4 separate regions of the Homo sapiens genome follow, and all the other regions are linked to region 3. Evidence: fine-mapped expression QTL. A gene starts in region 3. Each other region holds a variant in brackets. All regions are shown on one strand. Distances are between the middles of the regions.

Region 1 (5,199 bases), 99 kb after region 3:
TAAAATTAGCACATACAGGGTGTCAACACTGTCCCAGGCACTTTACATAGATGAACCCTCTCAATATAGTATTATGCCCACTTCGAAGATGAGAAACTCAGGCAGGTGCCTGGGAAGGTGTGTTGGCCCCATGGGGTGGGACAGATGTCAACGCTTGGAGAAGTCAGCCAGGCTGGGAATCCAAGCTACACTTCCTCATTCCAGTAGGATGAGGAGCAGCCTAAGTGGATGGCTCTTCCTCAGGCTTTCTCCTTTTTGGTCTCCTTAAATATCTATAAAGCTTTTGTTGCTGTTGTTGAAGTTCTAGGGAAAGCATGAAAGAGAAGCAGCAACACCCTGTGGGCAGGAGGCAGTAGCATTCAGGGTGAGAAGTGTCCTCTCAGGAAACACTGTCAAGGCTGGCCAACTGCCCTCTCCCACTGGTCTTACTGCTCTCTTTTTGAGATGGAGTCTTGCTCTTGTCTCCCAGGCTGGAGTGCAATGGCGAGATCTTGGCTCATTGCAAACTCCGCCTCCGAGGTTCAAGTGATTCTCCTGCCTCAGCCTCCCGAGTAGCTGGAATTACAGGCATGCGCCATCACACCCAACAAATTTTGTGTTTTTAGTAGAGATGGGGTTTCACCATGTTGGCCAGGCTGGTCTCAAATTCCTGATCTCAAGTGGTCCGCCAACCTCAGCCTCCCAAAGTGCTGGGGTTACAGGTGTGAGCCATGGCGCCTGGCTCTCCCTGCTGTCTTACTCCAGCTATACTCCTTCCACAGACGACTTTGGAGGTCCTGGGTTTTGCTTGGAGGTTCTGGGTTTTGCTCTCAGGAGGGAAACAAGGTTCCTTTCATATCTGTGATACGTACATTTGCCAGATAATTCAAGTTGGGATATTCTAAACAACCATTTCTTTAGATTTTTCTAAGCTCAATCTTGTATCTATTTGGATTCTCAGAAATCTTTCTGGTTATAGAATGTTTGTTTCTTTTAAAAAATCCAGGATCATTATTAAAAGCAACTAAAACTAGCCATTCTCATTTAGGATCCCTGCAGGGGATCTATACAATTTGAGGTGAGTTTAATACAGGGACTATTTACAAAGTTGTGCAGACAGAGCTTAGGGAGCCCACCAAAGGACACTGACACACCCTGGGGCTAGCAAAAGAGGGGAGCAGTTATCATTCAGAGGCCTGGAGGGGAGAGAGGAGACAGTAGTTACCAGTACCAAGACAGGGTGGCCTGAGGTAGAGGAATGAAGATAAAGCATGGTGACTTGGAAAGGAAGAAACCAAGGAAATACATCCCTTTCCTCTGGCCCTCCTCCTATCTCCTGCCAGTATTTCTCATTTGCCAAACTCTACCGGAAGGCTGAGAACCAGAGAGGCCACTGACATAGTCCATGGAAGTCAGCCCCTCCTGGGGCACAGAGTAGGGTGAGAAAAGATTGGAAATGGACATGGATATGGAGGGGCAAATGGAAGATACCCAAGGCTTCCATTATTAATGAGCATCGACAACAATATTAATCATTTCCATTTAAGTCCCTGCTTTGTGCCCTTCATACCAATCTTGCATTTTACAGATAAGAAAATGATGGTTCACAGGTTAGTGTTCTCGAGTGTCCCTGTAGATTAGAAGTCAAGATAACCCTGCAAGAGGGAAATTAATAAGGATCAAAACAAAAACGGATGATCTCAGCCATCTAGATATGTTAGCTATCTGTTGCTGCTAATGAATTTTCCCCAAATTTAGTAGCATAAAACAATAAACACTTAGTATTTCACACAGTCTCTGTGGGTCAGGAACAGCTTGGCTGGGCGGTTCTAACTCGGTCTCCCATGAGATTTTCAAGAAGTTGACCAGGTCTGCAATCGTCCGAATGCTGGATGAGGCCTGGAGAATCCACTTCCTAGGTGGCTCTTGCACCTGGCACCATGATTTGAATATCTGTCTTTAAATTTAACTGACATTGTCATAGTATTAAGAGGTGGAACATTAAGAGGTTATTAGGTCGTAATGGCTCTGCCCTCAGAGGTGGGATTGATACTGTTACAAAAGGATGAGTTCATCCCCTCTTTTTCTCTCTCTTTGCCTTGCTGCCATGTGATGACACAGCAAGAAGGCCCTTGCCAGATGCCGCTGTCTTAATCTTGGACTTCCTAGTGTGTAGAACTGTGAAGAAATAAATTACTGCTCTTTATAAATTACCCGGTCTCAGGTATTCTGTTAGAGCAGCACAAAATGCATGAAGACACTCACCCTGCAAGTTAGTGCTGGGTTTTAGCAGGAAACCTCAGTTCCCACCACGTGGACCTCTCCACAGGACTAGTTGAGTGTCTTCATGAAATGGCAGTTGGCCTACCCTGAATGAATAATTCAAGAAAGCCAGACAGGGAGGAAGCCACATTCCCTTTTAAGACCTAATCACAGAAGCTGCACGCACTGTTACTTCTGCCACATGCTATTCATTACAAGTACGTCACAAAGTCCGGTCCACCCTCAACAGGAAGGGAATTAAGTTCCATCTTTTTTTCTTTTTAAGAGACAAGGTCTCGCTCTGTGGCCCAGGCTGGAGTGCAGTGGCATGATCATAGCTTACTGCAGACTTGAACTCCTGGACTCAAGTGATCCTCCTGCCTCAGTCTCCTGAGTAGCTAGGACTACAGGTACATGCCACCATGCTCAGCTAATTTCATCACTTGAAGAGCAGAGTAGTAAAGAATTTTTAGGCGTATTTTAAAACCACCATATGTCACAATAGCAATATTGAAGACATTGTGGTTATATAACTGAAGAATTTGGGGAGGACTTGAAACTGCACTGAAACATGACCATCACCAAACAAGGTGAAACCTCCCGAGCACACTGTGTACTGCCTGAAGAAAGAGCTGGCAGAAGAGGAATAGTTTCCCAGGCATCTGTGCAAAGATGGCCCAGGGGAAAATGCTGCACAGGAAATGGTGATCCTAGTGAACACAAGCTTTCCGATAAAAGGAGAGGCATACTTGG[T/C]TTAGGAACAGGAACCTGTCATGTCTGGATGAAATATGTGTCAGAATTATCCATTTCCCCTGGGCAAGGCTTACCTTCTGGGAAGGCAATGTCTTAGGCAGCAGACACGAGGATTTCACTAAATCTAAAGAACTACCTCCATTTAATATCAAGTAATTGCTCATTTTTGATGCCCAATAGTGTCTTATGAGTGTGGCTAATGTGACATCAGCCTGAACATTTCCAGATTTGCATAGCTAAGGACTGAGTAGATCCACGGAAGTAGAAATCCCACCCTGGTATGGCCTGCCTGCAGAGCAATCACTGCCTCAGGTCACAGCCTTATCTTACCATGCCTTTTGTTAGTGCAGAACCTATTCCACAAAAACTCATGTGATGATAGGGCACTGTTTATGACAGCAAAATAGTGCAAACAACTCAAATGTCTCCAGGAAGGGATTGGTAGAATAAACTGTTACACAGTGGAGTATTATATGGCTGTAAAAAAGGAGGAGGAAGATGTTTATAACCAGTGCTTTCTGAAAGAAATTTCTGTGATAATGGACATATTCTATTCTTGGACAAATGGTAGCCATCAGCCGCATGTGGTTATTGACTGCTTGAAATGTGAATAGTTCAGCTAAGGAACTAATCTTGTTTTTTTTTAAGACAGAGTCTCACTCTGTCACCCAGGCTGGAGTGCAGTGGTGCTATCTTGGCTCACGGCAACTGCTGCCTCCTGGGTTCAAGCCATTCTTGTGCCTCAGCCTCCCCAGTCGCTGGGATTATAGGTTCGTGCCACCACACTTGGCTAATTTTTGTATTTTTAGTAGAGACGGGGTTTTGCCATGTTGGCCAGGCTGGTCTCCAACTCCTGGCCTCAAGTGATCCACCTGCCTCAGCCTCCCACAGTGCTGGGATTACAGGCGTGAGCCACTGCACCCAGCTAAATTTTAATTGTATTTAATTTTTGCTTAATAGCCATATATGGGTAGTGACTATTTTATTGGACAGCACTGCTTAATACAGATCTCCAGGATAGATTGTTAAGTGAAAACACAATATACAGGAAGTGTAGACCAGTGTATATAGGATGTTACTTTCTGTGAATGAAAGGAAGAGAAAAACATATGCATTACTTATATTTGTGGAAGTTGCATAAAAACACTGAAAGGATAAATTTAAATGGTTGCCTCTTCGACAAGAACAGGATGGAATGAAAGTGAGACTTTGCAGTGTGTGTGGTTTTTTTTTTTATTTTAATTTCCCTTTTCATTTTTTTTTTTTCTTTTTGAGACAGGGTCTTGCTTAGTCACTCAGGCTGGAGTGCAGTGGTGCAGTCACAGCTCACTGCAGCCTCAACCTCCCAGGCTCCTCTGGCCTCAGCTCCTGAGTAGCTGGTGACATATGCACCACCATGCCTGGCTAAGTTTTGTATTTTTTTTTGTAGAGATGGAGTTTTCACCATGTTGCCCAGGGTGGTCTTGAACTCCTGGGCTCAAGTGATTCTCCCGCCTTGGCCTCCCAAAATGCTGCAATTACAGGTGTGAGCCACCATGCCCAGTTCTAGATTCTTTAAATTGTGCTAAAAATAAATAAATAAATAAATAAATAAATAAAAATAACATAAAATTTACCATCTTAACCATTTTATAAAATTAATAAACTTTACTTTTTAGGACAGTTTTGGGTTCACAAAAAAACTGAGTAGAAAGTACAGAGAGTTCCCATCCCCACTCCTGTCCCCACGTACGCACAGCCTTCCACTATCAACATCCCATACCACAATGGTACCTTTGTTACAAGCAGTGAACCTTCATGGGTACAGCATTATTACCCAAAGTTCATAGTTTACATTAGGATTCACTCTTGGTGGTATACATTCTATGGATTTTGACATACATATAATGACATGTATCTACCATTGTATACATGTATAATGACGTATGTATAATGACATGCATCACACAGAATAGTTTCACTGACCTAAAAATCCTTCATGCTCTGCCTATTCATACCTCTCTCCCTTCTAACCCCTGGCAGCCACTAATCTTTTTACTGTCTCCATAGTTTTGGCTTTTCCAGAATGCTCTATAGCTGGTATTATACAGTCTGCAACATTTTCACATTGGAAAATGCATTAGTAATATGCATTTAAATTTCCTCTATGTCTTTTCATGGCATGATAGCTCATTTCTTTTTAGTGTTGAATCACTTGACATTGTC
Region 2 (5,000 bases), 140 kb after region 3:
TGGAGCGGGTCAACGGGGCTGACAGAGCTGTTAACACACTGCCATCCATTGGGCCACGGAAAATGGGACTAAAAGAGCTAATTAGCACACTGTAACACACCCTCTGGGCTTCAGGGTCCAGGGCACCGCTGCTTGGGTGCCACCACATTCCCCTCGTCTGGACACCAGAGTCTACCACAGGAGTCGCTTGTGACACACCTGGTTCAGCCACAAGCCCTGCATGGATCCCACTCCTGTGCCGGCTCTTAGAACAGCTGGCTGGACCCTGCTGTCACTGGCTCACACATCCCCTCCTGCCAGCACAGTCACAGCAGACACAGCACCCACACTGGAGTGCAAGCCAGGCATAGCCCAGCAGTAGATGGGGCCTCTCCTGTGGTGAACCCAGGCCCGAGCAAGGCCTGGGCCAGGGGTATTGCTGGCTGGAGGTCTCTGGCTGGCAAAGTGACCGAGAAAAATCCCGCATCAACAGGTCAAATCTGTTTTTGCTTTAAAAATCTGTTTTTGTAAATAAGGTTGTATTGGAAGATGGCCATGTCCATTTATGTATATATTGCCTGACTGCTTTCTAGATATAAGGCAGTTGAGAAATTGCAACAAAGATTGTATGGCTCACAAAGCTGAAAATATTTACTATCTAGGTTTAGAATGAAAAAAGAAAAATAGCTCAGACTGCTGTAAGCTATGAGAGGTATGCAAAATTTACTTGGCTCAGAGAGACCTGGGACTTCAGTCAGGCCCCTACTCTCATCCCTCACCCCCACCTCTGCATCCCGCCCATGCCCTGGGGGCAATTGTTTAAAGGCATTTTGTTCCTGACTAGCTGGCCTCACCCATTATCTTCATGTTCCTAGAATTTGTGATACAAAGAACAATGTATAACCAATTAATAGCTTATGTTACTTTAATGTAAATTCTTGTTAAACAACTTAGGAACTGCCTCTTCTTTTTTTCCCTTTAAAAACCCATTTGTAGGTGCTGCTAATTAGAATGTATATTCAGGGCAACTTGAATCCATGTTCCTGGGTGGCCATCCTCAAGCTTTGGGCTCAAATGAACTCTATATTTAATCATACTTTCTGAATATTATTTAAGGTTGACAAGAATAAGGGAGATAAATATATACAGAACTAACCAAAGGAGTTAAAAGTGTTTGTTCTGGGCTGCTGTCTTTTGTCTCTGAATATGAGTTGGCTTTTTAAATTACGTGCGTTACTACCTCTGATAAAAAATAAGAAATTCTTATTAAGGAGTTGTCCTGATTCCCCTGGAGGGACACAGGGGGAAGCACTGGTCTGACATCAGGGTTCATGCCTGAGCCTTGCCCTGCTGTCTGCTGCTCTTTGCCAGCTGTCACCATCCCATCTGAATGGGGCTGAGTGACTCAGAGCTGCCTGGCCAGGGTTTTATGGGAACTGGACATAGGATTTTAGATACCTAAATTGGGAGGAACCACTCTGGGGCAGCCTCCTGTTTCAAGCCATCATTTGGTAGTGCCAGTATCATAAATGAGTGGCCGTATATAGCGCAGGGGTTTAAGTGGTGAATGAGCTCTACTGTTAGACTACCTAGCTTCATAAAACCCAGGCTCTCCCTCTAATTAACTAGGACCTGGGCAAGATATTTAATTTCTCTGTGCCTCAGTTTGTCATGGATAAATGGGACTTACAGTGCCTCCTTATAGGACTGTAGCGAGCTTAATTCAACTAACACATATAAAAACACTTATCACAGTGGCAGGCACATATAAGCCTAATGAATGTTAGCTTTTATTCTCATTTTCACAGATGACGTAAGTGAGGTAAGTGAGGTTCAGAGAGGGAAAGTAGCATGCACAATGTCAAACAGCCAACTGGAGACAGAGCTAGGCCTAGTGCCTGGGACTTTTCTGTCTCTCTGCAATACTCTTTCTCCTTGTACCACCCCAAGTTGCTTAGATATACATAAAGCATCTCTGGAGAGATACACAGAAAAATGAACAGTAGTGGTTACCTGTGGGCAGATAGAGACCAGAAGAATTGTGGAAGAGTAGAAGAGAAGACATCTTTTCACTGGAATTTAAAATTTTCAAGCCACATGACTGTATTATTAACACCAAATAAGGAGACAAATAGATGGATTAATTAAATAAATGGGATTGACTGGGTACAGTGGTCCACACCTGTAATCCTAGCACTTTGAGAGGCCAAGACAGGAGGATCACTTGAGCTTAGGAGCTCAAGACCAGCCTGAGAAACATAGTGAGATCTCATCTTTTTTTTTTTTTTTTTTTTTTTTCAAAAAAGGTAAATAAATGGGACTAATAATGCCTTTCTCATGGTGGAGAACAAATGAGATAACAGAAGTGAAAAGACTTCTACACTAAGTGACAACCAGATGTGAAGGGTTATGACTAGTAATTATGGTGCTTTTTAGTAAAAGCAAACTTTGCTCTGGGTTTATGGAACAAACTGTAAGAAAGGACATAAATTTCAGGCTGTTCATTAGCCAAGTTCTCCTCTTTGAGATGAAGTAGGTTTCCTTGGCCACAGGTGAAGCCATCTTGTACTGCAATGGAAATTTCCATCTTGGCATCCACAAATGAGAGCTTCCCTTCCCCCACACATACTGGCTCTCCTGAGCCCAACACATTGCATCCAGGCCGTCAGTTGGAGAACTCTTCTGGAAAACATGATTAAGGCTGCACAAACTGGGGGG[T/GT]TTATTGGGTATGACAGTGAGGGCCACGGTTTGTTTTTCAAGGGAGGGAGCTAAGTCCCAGAAATAGCTGAGCTCGAGATGGCAGGCGGCTGGCAAAGGCAGGAGGCTCCAGGGCAACGCTCCCAGGCCATGTTGACTTAGGACCGGCTGCCTGAGCATTGTAAACAATTGCAGAAATGATTTCCTACCCTGGCAGAAGTCTTGTTTGGACAAGGGATCCCCCCTCCTTCTTTAAAAGGCAGTTTTATCATTTGTTTGCAAAAATGTTCAATCCCCTCTTTCTTTTCTTGTTCCCTCTGTGGCTCTGGTCTCCCCCAGAGCCAGATGAAAAATCTTTGTGTTTCTTTAATGTTAACCAAACCCCCACTCCTTTTTTAAACTGTTCCAGGTCTGCTGGACAAATACTTCCCAGCAACAGGACTAACAAGCGTCTGTTAAGGATTTTGTTAGGCTGTAGTCTTTAGCTGAAGTGACTTAATTTTTTTTTTCTCCTTGCTTATTACATTTTTAACTCCTAACACAATAAAATCTGCACACACAAGGATTGGGAGAGCCATAAAAATGAAACTCATAATGTCTTGGCCTGAACTAGCGAATGCTCCATCTAGACACTGATGTAACAGATTTGGTCTCACCCATCCTCCCAAGATGTCAGACTAGGAAATAAAACTAGTTGTAAGGGAGTAAGCTTAAAACAGAATTGTGAGCTCTGTCAGGCTGCTGGCTGGGGTGGGGCTTCTGAGAGGCTGGGGGATGGGCTGCACATTCTGAAAAGCAGCCAGAACACTGAGCAGCTCAGAAAGAAGGAATACTCTGTTCTTGACCACCCAGGGACAAGGGCAGCCAGGGGCCAGATGCGGAGCGTGATATGCTAACCTACATAGCCCACATGTCACCTCACTCCAAAAGGGAGGAGGAGGAAAAGAATAAGGAGGGATAAGAGTGGAAGATGGAAAAAGGAAAAGAAAGAGAGGGAGAGGAGATAGGAAGGAAGGGGTGCTTGGAGAGCAGAGGCGGCAGAGGCTGTATCAGTCATAGTCCCAGCTGGAAACAAGCCACTCACAAGCTTGGTAATGGAAGAGAGTTTAGTAAAGGGATTATTGACGAGGTATAGGCAAGAGTTAAGGGAAACCAAGAGGATGGTGCTACAATCCCATAGCCTGCAGCCACAGGGGAGGAGCTGTTACCACTGAGACCTGAAGGTCTTCCTCTAAAGACATTACGTAAGACATAGCTTCTCATCATTATTTCACCAGGAAATATATCACTCTACTTGAGGACATGTTAGAGACAGATGATGAATCCAAATTTAGAACTGACATAGGAGAAAACTGAGGTATAAACAGGCTGGTGGTAAGCATTAAATGTGTTTGAACATGAAAGCCTATATAACCGTAATGATCACATTTACTGGAAAATAATATAATCGTTATAGTTATTGTGGGAAAAAAAACACTCTACAAAATGTTTCTTTGTTAATCATTGCTGTTGTTGATAATAGAACATATGGGGGAAATTCCTAAAACTATAATTAAAGAAGGAATGGAAGGAAAAGGAGATTGGTGTTTGCTTGTTTGTTTTTATGGTAGCAAAATATATATAACATCAGATTTACTCTTTTTTGGAGATAGGGTCTTGCTCTGTCACCTAGACTGGAATGCAGTGATGCAATCACGGCTCACTGCAGCCTCAACCTCTCAGACTTGAGCAATCCTCCCACCTCAGCCTCCCAAGTAGCTGGGACTACAGATGTTCACCACTATGCCCAGCTAATTTTTAAATTTTTTGTAGAGATTGGGTCTTTCTATGTTGCTCAGGCTGGTCTCAAACTCCTAGATTCAAGCAATCCTCCTACTATGGCCTCCCAAAGTGCTGGGGTTACAGGTGTGAGCCAACATGCCTGGCCAAATTGACCAGTTCTGTGGTGTTAAGTACATTCACACTGCTGCACAATGATCACCACCATTTATCTCCAGAACTTTTATCTTCCCAAACTGAAACTCTATACCCACTAAACACTAACTCCCCATTCTCTTTCCTTAACCCCTGGCAACAACCATTCTACTTTTTGTCTCTATGATTTTTGACTATTCTAGATATCTCAAATAAGGGGAATCATACAGTGTGTGTGTGTGTGTGTATGTGTGTGTGTGTGTGTGTGTGTGTCTTATTTCACTTAGCATAACGTCCTCAAGGTTCATTCATGTTGTAGCATTTATGGGAATTTCCTCCTCTTTTAAGGCTGAGTATTTCATTTCATATATATATATATATATATATATATATATATATATATATACACA
Region 3 (5,199 bases):
TCACTAAAAAAGCCATGAGGAAAATAATTATGAATACAATCCACAGCAAAATGAAGTATGGGGCTGAAACCTAAAATAATGAAAAGTCACTGAGTTTTATGTAAAGCTTCACAGTTGAAGTACTCTATTCCCATTTAAAATTTCAAAAAATCTAGATTTTTTTCTTCTTACTCTGATTTTTCCTATCATATTAGGAATGTATGATATTTACCTCCAAAAAATCACAAACAAAAAGCCTTCAGAAAATATCATTTCCAAAAGGAGTATCTGCCAAACCTTACTGCACAGAAAATTATATATACACATTCTCTTTTTTTTAACACATTCTCAAATAACTATGGTAGGCGTTCCTGAGATCACCTCCTCCACCCCTCAAAAAAAGAACAGCAAATCTAACCACAATAAAGTATTAACCAAATTTTTTTAACGCCGCTATCACCAGCTAAGCAATTTATCACACAGCTCCTCAAAGTCTCAGACACACACAATGACATACCAACATGTCAAAACAGTTATTATAATTTGAAAAATTATACAACAGGAACATAAGAGTAGAAAAAAAAAACTTCCTCTGGAAAAACTCTAGTAGATTTGGGAGAGCACAAAAAACGAGATTAATTTTAGAAAAATAACATTTCTTCAAGTGTTTGGTGTTTATCTGATACTGGTTCATTTTCGTAAAGAGAAACTTTACCTAACAAGACTCACACCAGGGATCTGATCTATCCCCAAAGGCACTTTCTTAAAATGAGAAAGAACAAAGAAGGAAATCTCTCAGCATGTGCTTTCCATACTAGTTTCTTTGGACAGCATCAAGAGTGACAATATAGTCTGCACATGCTTTTCAGCTTTATTCTATGGTCCATGTATAACAACTGATTAGCTATCATTCAAAAGAACTCCTAACAAAATAAATATTACAAGGCAAAGATCACAGCAACATAGTGACTCTAAGAGAAAAATTATAGAAAACATGTCTTAAAGTTGTGTGCTTTTTTTTATTTCAAGGGTTAATTATCTCCAAATATTCAAATTCCTAAGGCTTTCTCATTTCAGTCAATAGTTTGAAACTGGGGAAAAATCAAAACCATCCATTGTAAATCTGCTCTCCCTTCAGTAAATTTGTAATTAGAAGTACATTTTAAAAGAATGACACTCAAAGCCAATACCTTAACATACGAATCTTGGAGTGTAAACATTGTGAAGTTATTAGGAGAAAAGCTCTTTCGGTGAGGATATTCCACAGGAAAAACTCTACAGAATCAAATCTGGCATTTGGTTGTTCTAGAAGTTGTCGTTTCATTATAACGGGGAAAAAATTAAATAATTTTTATTTATTATAAAAAGAAGACTCTCCCCAAAGATTTACAATTGTATATCCCCATCTCCTCTCTGACAGAGATGTCAGTTCTCTGGGTCGAGACATAACCAGCTGCTGGGTTCACACACACAGGAAGCCACAGAGAAGATCGCGTTCAGAGCCTCGAAATAATACGCGTTAGTTAAGAACTGCCTGCTACTAAACCAAAATTATTCAAGCGGAGCCCCATTTGTCACAATCCAGTCATAAGGGTTCCACCACCCCCTCCCCCAACTGCTTGTGTAGTGGTATATCTGCTACGGTAAAGAAGCCATCATCAGGTAAAGATTGGGGTGGGAGAAAAGCGGGGAAAAGGGGGCACCCTTTCATCTAATTTCGTGAGGCGTGAGTAATTGGTACTGTTAAGAGGAACGTTCTATTTATCGGGGGTTGGAGTAGCATGAGGGGAGAATTTCGTTCAAATCAACATGGCCAGCAAGATGTCCCTACAAACAAAAGGCAATGGGGGGATATAAACACGAACCATTCACCTCCATCAGCTACAGCATCGCCATCATGGTGTGTGCAGAGACCCCCAAAGGCTCCTCTCACCCTCCACACCAGCTAAGGCAAAAGAAGGGAGAGAGGTAGCTGCATCCCCCCCTCCCAACACTGCTTCCAAAGACACACTCTTCGAGGGGGTTTCTCCCCTCGGCTGCCCGGAATCAGAGAGAAAGAGTAACGTCCCGCTCACTACCTCTCAGCCGAACCCCAACGCCGGCCCGGGGCTCGCTAAACTTTACCAGAGCTTCTCCCCCAGATCCCCACCCTATCGCCCCGGGATCGCGCTTCCCACAAGCGGGGCACCCCAGGCGCTTCCTGACAAGCGAGCAGCCGGGGAAAGCCGAGTCCGGGGCGGGGGCTACTGGGATCCACGGAGGGGCGGGGCGGCCGAAGCCAAGTTCCCGGGGGTCTGAGAAGAGCGCCTGACAGGAGCCCGGGACTGCAAAGGAGGAAGAGGAAGCGGCCACGGGGAGCTTTCCCAATCCCCCCTACGAGAGCACCCTGCCCCCAGCCCCAGCTCCCCATGGGGGGCAGGGAGGCTAACTGGAAGGTGAAAAAGCCGAGCCCATGAGACAGCTGCAGCCCCTACCTCCGGACTCCCTATCTCTTCCCCCGCCACCCCCGCCAGAGGCGCCCACAACAATAACACGCCGGGGACGACCCGTCAGCGCCCCCGAGGCACCCGGGGCCCGCGGCCCGCCGCAGGCGGGCCCCCTCTGCTGAGACCGGGCGCGCCTCTCTCCCTACAACTCCAGGCCCGGGTGGAGTCAGGCCCGAGAGGCCCCCCAGGGTCGGACCCATCCCCCCTGGCAGCAGCGGCGCCGTCTCCGCGGCCGAATATTAGAAGTGAATTCGAGCTGCGCTTTACCTTTAGTTCCGCACTGTCCGCCATCTTGCGTCTGTCAGCGCAAGCGCAGTGAACTTCGCCGGGGGCCGCCGCTAGACCCGCCCCTCTAGCCGGCCTGGCCCCGCCCCGGCCCGCCCCTCCACCTTCCCAGCCCGCCTCTAGCCTCCGCCCCGCTCAGGGCGCTCGAAGCCCCGCCCCGGGCACGTACAGCTGCGAGACAGGCACGTTCCATTTAAATAATGGCGCCAAGCGGCGAGGTTTGACAGTTACTGCCCCCTCGGTCTCCCTGCCCCCCATCCTAGCTCGGCCAGCTCCTCCCGGGAAGGGCCGGAGCGAGAGGGATGCTGGCCTGAGCCCCATCTCTCTGCGGTCCGCGGAACGCTTCTGCATAGCTTCGACGCCTACGGTCACAGAAACAATGCTGTCCCCCAACCCCCAATAAGCAAGGCTTTTTCAGCACCTGCTACCTGCGAGGCTACCAGTGGGCTAAAAATAGAAATCCATTACATTTAAGGGGCCCTTAATGAAGCATTTCTATCATTATTGGCTCAGATCCTCTTGATAACGAGGGGAGGTAGGCAAGGAAGAGATAATTCCCATGGTATAGATTCAGAAATGAAAGCTCAGAGAGGAAAAGTGACTTGCACAAACAAGTATTTTAACGAGGTGGCGTAAGACAAAATTTTGAAGGTGTTCATTAACATTTTTGTTTAAAAAAGTATTTATTTAGTGACCATCTGCTTGCCTTGTGCTAACGGCTAAATATACATTTTGAAATCAAAGTCCGTGCCCTTCTGTAGTTCTCTAATGGGGAATCAGAGAAGTGAACGAACAAAGATACAATTGCAAATGTTAGTGAGTACCAGAAAGGAGCAAAAGGTCATTGAGAGAGAGAAAGGGTTTGGGAGATGTACTTAATTCTGGGAGGGTTTTATCCACTAAATTGACATTTAAGTAGACTTGATGGAAGGATTATTTCATTCCTTTTCGTCTCTACTGAAAGCCTTCTATATACCTCCTCCCCAACCCCCACTTTTACTAATCAACTTTGCCTCATAACTCATGGAAAAAATGAAAGATATCAGAAATAAACTCCCTTATCTTCTCACCATCAAAACCACCCTTATCTGCATAGTAACATTTGGGTTGCTATGAATGAAGTGTCCCTGCGCCTAGGAAGGCCAGTCCCTTTACCAGTGACCGGATTTTTTTCACGCACATTCCTAAGGATTTTACTCTTACAATTACCTACCCTCCAGCATCGTTAGTTTTTTCCCTCTCAATTGAATTGCTCCTATCAGCATATAAATATATTGAAATTTCTCCCATCTAAAATAAACTTCCTTTGACTCCAAAATCGCCTCTAGGAACTGCCCTATTTTTCTGCTATCTTCATAAATTCTTAGAAAGGTTTTTCAAGATCTCTCCAATAGTGCTTGTTCCTACCTCTCACTTCACATTCACTTCTCAGTCTACCCTGATCGAGCTTTGGCTTCCATCATCTGTATCACTTATCAAGATTACTAATGATCTTGTTTCCAAAGGCAATTGCCAATTCTCTATCCATATCTCAATTGACCTCTCTGTAGAATCGCGAATAATTGACATGGTTCCTTTGATTTGAAACACTTTTCCCCCTGAACTTACCTACACGTCACAGATAGTCCTGTTCCCTCACTGGGCCTCCTTTTTGATATGCTGGTTTCTCCTCTTTGGCTCAATCTTTAAATGTTGGACTGCTCCAGGGCTCGGTCCTTGCATTCTTCTCTATTTTATCACCAGGTGATCTCATCTAACTGGTTGACTTGAAGTCTATATGCTCATGACTTTGAAAATGCTCTCTAGCCTAAACCTCTCCATTGTCAAGAAACAAAAGTAAAACAAATTGAGATTCAAGATCTCATTGGCATTATTGCACTCCTAGAATTGGACAAAACTTCATTCCACAAAATAGAATAAATGTTGCAATGAATCAAGCAGAGGATGTTAACTTTAGAGACAGAAAATAGACTGAAGAAGGCAGAAACAACAAAAAGCAGATTGGTTATATCAAAGTCACTTTTCTTTAAGGTGGAGACGTGGAGACAGAACAGTAGAAAGAAAACTGATTGGTTAACATTGGGTTACTTCAGGTATTCTATTTTAAGGATTAAAACAGGAAATTTCATTATCATGCCTGTTAAAGATTGAAACTTCTGTTTGGAAAATTGGCTATCTCTCTTACCATTTTTTGGAAAACCAGATAACTCAGTTTTGTTTTGGTGAACATGGGTGACACCATTTTGATTTTTAGTCTGATCTGGAGGCCTGATGCAGGAATTTGGTTGAAAACAATGGCATCCCATGATTTTTATTTAACAACCTAGGTGAAATTGTGACTAAGACTGAGGGCATTAGCACTACCCTCATTTAACATCATTCTGTGTTTCCAGTCTCAACACATCATTTATAGATTACAGTGTCCTCATGATTTTGTATTTCTGTCATT
Region 4 (5,199 bases), 140 kb before region 3:
TGCCTTCATTAGGGAATATGAAGGGACCCCTGGTCTGGGCTGGGGATTTGGGGGGCTCCTTCTGCATCCTCTCCCTCACCCTACTGCTCTCAGTGGTGTCTGCCCTGGAACCGAAGGCAGTGTGGCCTGGTGGGCAGAGCTGCCCACAGCCAGGCTCTCAGTGTTCCAGCCCTCAATGTCCTGTCCGCACATGGGAATATGAGGGGGCGCATCACAGGGTTGTGGGGATGAAGCGAGGGCCTGGGGGTGGAGTGCTCAGCAACGTGAATTGTCATTGTTGCTGTCATCAGCTAAGGGGCTATTATTGTCCAGGCCTCTAAGGACCTACCTGGGTGGTGTGAGAAGCAGGAGAGAGAACAGAGCCCTGAGCCCCAGCCTGGGAGGGCCAGCGCCAGGCCACTGTGTTTCCACGGCTCCACCCACAGGCCCGGGTGCCTCGTCTGGGCTGGACGAGAATCTCCCTGTCCTGATGGCAGCCCCACCTACCCCTAAATCAGATGCTCAGTCAGTGCGGTTCAGGGACTTTTCCTGAACTCCCAGCTGGCCTTCCTGGGCCTCCCAGGGCCGGGAGCCCGTGGGATGGCTGTGTCAGGCCGGGAGTCTGTGGGTTTAGGGGAGCTAGCTCCGGCTGCCTTCCACCTCCACCAAGTACCGAAGGAGAAAGGGCTTCAGACCCTGGGAGAATTTCCCAGCAGGACCCTTTGAAGTCTCTAAGAACAGGACCAGGGCCCGAGTCCAAGGACAGCTTGAGGGTTTAGCAGCCTGGAGGCCAGGGCAGGGGCAATAGGCTCAGAAATGCCCCAGCTCTGATGATGATGATAATATCATCATATGAAGGCCACTCTCTGGCAGGCCTCCTGGGATTTCTGGCTCTCACAGTAATCCTGAGGCCTTATTATTCCCATTGTCCAGAAAAGTTGTGTTTGCAGAGGTCCCCTGGGGGTCTGGACGCCTTGCTGTGGGTTCCTGCTCTCCCCTGTGGGCCCTGGAGGGGCACTGTCCTGGGAGTTCCAGTCCTGTGGGTTGGCGGGGAGGGGGAGGGAGAAGGAAGGGAGGGAGTAGGGAGAAAGGGAAGGGGAGCCAGATAAAATACAGGACACCCAGTTAAATTAGAATTTCAGACAAACAACAAATACTTTTCCAATAGAAGTATATGTCCTATGCAAAATTTGGGGCATACAATAAAAGTATATTCAGTGTTTATCTGAATTCGGTTTAACTTGGCAGTCCTGTATTTTCATTTGCTGTATCTAGCACCCTTGGGAGGGGAGAGAGGGATGGAGGGAGTAGGCAAAAGGAAGGGGAAAAGAGGGAGAAGAGACTAAGGATGGGGAGGGCGGCATGGGCGGAGAGTGACCAGACGCTGCTGACCCTCCCTCTGGGCCGTGTGCAGAGTACAAGGAATGCTTCTCCCTGTATGACAAGCAGCAGAGGGGGAAGATAAAAGCCACCGACCTCATGGTGGCCATGAGGTGCCTGGGGGCCAGCCCGACGCCAGGGGAGGTGCAGCGGCACCTGCAGACCCACGGGATAGGTGAGTGGTGGTGGGAACAACGGGGAGAGGGGAGGGGCCCAGCAGGTGGGTGCAGACAGTAGAGGTGTGAAAAGCTCAGCAGTTTGAGGGGCAGGTGGCAGGGAGGCCTCCTGGGGATCCAGCTGTGGCAGCCCCAGACCAGGAGTGCCGTACCTCACTTGGGCTTCCTGGAATCCTCATAGCAACCAGTGATACCCCATCTCACAGACCTCGGGATCTAGGCGTTCCAACAGACTTACCAAACCCAGAGAAAAATCGCGCTGACAGCGATCCCATGTTGCTTTATAGGAACATTTCCCTTTGTTGAGTATTTGTCATGTGCTTAGCTCCAAAAACCCTATGAAGTAGGCATTCTCCTAACCTTTTTTTTTTGAGGGGGGACAGAGTCTTGCTCTGTCACCGAGAAGCTGACGTGCAGTGGTGAGATCTCGGCTCACTGCAACCTCTGCCTCCCAGGTTCAAGTGATTCTCCTGCCTCAGCCTCCCAAGTAGCTGGGATTACAGGTGCCTGCCACCACGCCTAGCTAATTTTTGCATTTTTAGTAGAGATGGGGTTTTGCCATGTTGGCCAGGCTGGTCTTGAACTCCTGACCTCAGGTGATCTGCCTGCCTCGGCCTCCCAAAGTGCTGGGGTTAGAGGCCTGAGCCACTGCGCCCAGCTTTCTCCTAACTCCATTTTACAAGCAAAGATCAAGGTTTACATCCATTAAGTTCTTGAGCCAATGATGGCATCAGGATTAGTACCCAATTCTTCTGATATCAAAGACTGACCTAAAAACTATGCAATAGTTTTTAGAAAAACTATTGCTAGAAAAAAAATGCTGAAAGAAAACCCATCCAAGATGTTACCAAGTGGTTCTCTCTGGTAATGGGATTATGGGTGATTTTTGTTCCTTTTATTGTTTCCTGTATTTTCAACAA[T/C]GAGAACACATACAGCTTTTCATAATCAGAAACAAGTTTTATGTTTTGTTTTGCTTTTTCTAAGAAAAAAAGTAGTTTCAGAGCCTGGGGTTGCTGTTTGCATTGGGGGCTGGACACTCAGGAAGGAGGGACTGGCGCAGGGGAAGGGCATCCGCTGGGAATAGCACTTGACCCGGAGCCCATAGGCTGCTGCTCAGTCTCAGGTCACCAGCTTCCTCATCTCAGGGGGGTCACCACCATCTGCTAGGGTTACCAGAGGCCCCACTAGAGGATGCCTGCAGTTGCGCTGGGAGCCCACCCTGGGGCAGGCCACGCTGGGCCCAGGTGGGCCTCTGAAAGCCTGCAGCCTGGCGGTGGGTTGCTCAGTGGTCTGATACCTGAGATCCCCCATGTCCAGCTCCAAAGGGGTGGTGGTTTCCTTGATTTCTGTCCCCTCCAAACAGGAAGTTGTAGTCCAGGGAAGTTTTGATTTCCTGCAGTTACATCCCAGCCAGGGCCCGTGGAGGAGGGGCTGGGATGGAGACTGCAGTGAGGGGAAGGCAGGTGAGCAGCCCAGCCTGCGACTGAGGCTTGAGACCCCAGGTGGGGGTGCTGATCCATCCTGGTAAGATGTACTGTGGTGGCTGTCAAAGGTGGAATGCACACATGGACCTGTTTCCCTCCAGTTCAGGGCAGGAGGGAAGCGCTAGAAGGGAGCAGAGGAGCCCAGTCCTCCATCTGTGGTTGGGAACCCACTTTCTTGAGCTTTGGGGTGATGATAAGCATCGTCACTGAGGACGTTGCTGAAATGAAGAATGTCCAGTCCAGTGAGGGGCCTGTCGTGGGAACTCGGTGGGAGGGGATGCATCCTCTTCACTGTGACCACTGCCACATCCTGGCATTCCCTGGTCAGTTGACCTTGAACCGGCTGTGCAGGTCCAGCAGGAGGCCAGCTGGCTTCCTAGGAGTCTTTTTCCCTCTGCTCACTCTGCTGTGTTTGCGGGTTTCCTAGACGGAAATGGAGAGCTGGATTTCTCCACTTTTCTGACCATTATGCACATGCAAATAAAACAAGAAGACCCAAAGAAAGAAATTCTTCTAGCCATGTTGATGGTGGACAAGGAGAAGAAAGGTTACGTCATGGCGTCCGACCTGCGGTCAAAACTCACGAGTCTGGGGGAGAAGCTCACCCACAAGGAAGGTAACAGCCTGGGTCCTGTCTCCCAACAGTTGGAGGGGGTTAGGGAGTTGGAAGGAGGGCACCAAAGCCTAGCTGATGCCACCAGGGTGGTACAGACCACCTCTGTTGATGCGCGCGCAGGAGACTGTGAGCAGATGCCACACTAGGTGGGTGCTGGACTGGAGCCTGGGGAAGAACTAGAGGGGCTGGAAGGGCGCAGGGAGGTCTGCCAGGGTGAAGGGACAGCCTAGGGGAAACCCAGCTCGGAACCCACAAGGCAGGGCAGCTGGAGCGTGCAGTCTGGTCTCCCCCTGTGTTCAAGCTCTCACTGTGGGGCTTCATCTAGTGCATGACACCCCTGGGAGCACAAATGCCTGCTCCTACTGATAAAGAAGCAGGGGGAGTGAGCGGCTCCCAAGCAGCGGCGCAGGAGCGAAGGCAGGTCTAGACATCCCTGCCCTTTTTCCCATCACAGCAGTCTGCAGTTGCTGCTGAGGTCGAGTTTCCGAATTGAGGTGCTGCTTTGCTCCCTTTCCAACTCAGGCTGCTCTAAGCTCTTCCAGAAAGGGGCTCCAGAGGGAACTTTGCCAGGACAGTTGGAGAACTGCCGAGACAGGCAGGGTTCCTGGTTCCAGAGCCCCACGAGAAAGGGGTCTTTGCTTTGCACCTTCCTGCAGCCTAGCAGGCTGTCCTGCCTCAGAGCAGGACGAGGCCTGGGGTCTTCTAGGAAAGCCCTTTGTACACTGTCAAGGGGATCCCCACGCCAAGGCCATTTACAGCCTTTGTTCTTCCAGCCTGCGGACCCTCCTGCCTAGCCCTGCCATGTTCGCAGCAGCCAGCCAGCCAGCTCTGCCTCTGCCCGAGGCCAGGGACCCCGACCTTAGAGCCTGGGGTTTCTAGGTAGGCTGCCCTGCTTGCCTGTGGTTTGGACAGGAGAGCTGGGCTTGGCCACAAGTGGGTGCTGGAAAGAGGCTTCAATATGACGGACTTTCCGTCTCTGGTTAAATCACAATAAACCACTGGAGGAGAGCTTTGAGGCTGTGGTTTGAATCCTGGGTGCCAGGAGACCTTTCTCCCACCTCGCTTTCCTTGCTGGAAATGAGGGTACAGTAGGTGACCCCTCAGGTCCCTCTGAGCTACCACTCTACAAATCACTCTGCTCAGATTTTAGCTACTGCCATTAAGGCACAGTGCAGAGAGTTTAAAAATTGCTGCAGAGTTTAAAAATTGCCTGACATACAAAAATTAGCCAGGCGTGGTGGCGGGCGCCTGTAGCCCCAGCTACTCGGGAGGCTGAGGCAGGAGGATCACTTGAATCTGGGAGGCGGAGGTTGCAGTGAGCCGAGCTTGCGCCACTACACTCCAGCTTGGGTGACAGAATGAGACTTTATCTCCATAAATAAATAATCGCCCAACAGCAGGCTGGGTCTCCATACCCAGCTTTTCCAGGTTCACCTCTCGTGGCTGTTTTCACATGGATAGGGAAGACATGGGTCATCCTTCCCTCCCAGACTCCCCCCAGGACACTGCCCGGCCCTCTAGACAGCAGGTGGAGTCAGCAGAGGGAGCAGGGCCTTCTTTTTGT

Alleles and levels. Alleles are on the strand shown, and positions count from the first base shown. SD is a standard deviation of normalised expression in the study named. Not every link is listed here.
With allele T in place of C in region 1, the expression in tibial nerve of the gene that starts at base 2,768 in region 3 is lower (moderate effect, 0.52 SD a copy in GTEx).

The links.
Region 1: its variant is fine-mapped to the expression of PIAS1 in tibial nerve (GTEx, PIP above 0.99). The same link has a PIP of 0.9 or more in aorta, breast, esophagus mucosa, esophagus muscle, fibroblasts and subcutaneous fat.
Region 2: its variant is fine-mapped to the expression of PIAS1 in skeletal muscle (GTEx, PIP 0.97).
Region 4: its variant is fine-mapped to the expression of PIAS1 in whole blood (TOPMed, PIP above 0.99).

Annotation. Positions count from the first base shown.
Region 1 is chr15:67,952,623-67,957,821 of GRCh38, reverse strand. No RefSeq gene overlaps it. Among named protein-coding and RNA genes, the nearest start is that of PIAS1, 99 kb to the left of the region's middle. RefSeq lists an enhancer at 2,694-2,773. The variant T/C (reference allele first, on the strand shown) is at 2,995.
Region 2 is chr15:67,913,598-67,918,597 of GRCh38, reverse strand. No RefSeq gene overlaps it. Among named protein-coding and RNA genes, the nearest start is that of RNU6-1, 76 kb to the right of the region's middle. RefSeq lists an enhancer at 1-170. The variant T/GT (reference allele first, on the strand shown) is at 2,698.
Region 3 is chr15:68,051,884-68,057,082 of GRCh38, reverse strand. PIAS1 (protein inhibitor of activated STAT 1) reads right to left here and starts at 2,768. Exons shown (of 14, transcript NM_016166.3): 1 at 2,733-2,768. The coding sequence starts at 2,756. RefSeq lists a silencer at 2,470-2,969.
Region 4 is chr15:68,195,876-68,201,074 of GRCh38, reverse strand. It overlaps CALML4 (calmodulin like 4), which reads left to right. Exons shown (of 5, transcript NM_033429.3): 3 at 1,394-1,534; 4 at 3,447-3,635. Among named protein-coding and RNA genes, the nearest start is that of CALML4, 6.9 kb to the left of the region's middle. RefSeq lists an enhancer at 1-554. The variant T/C (reference allele first, on the strand shown) is at 2,456.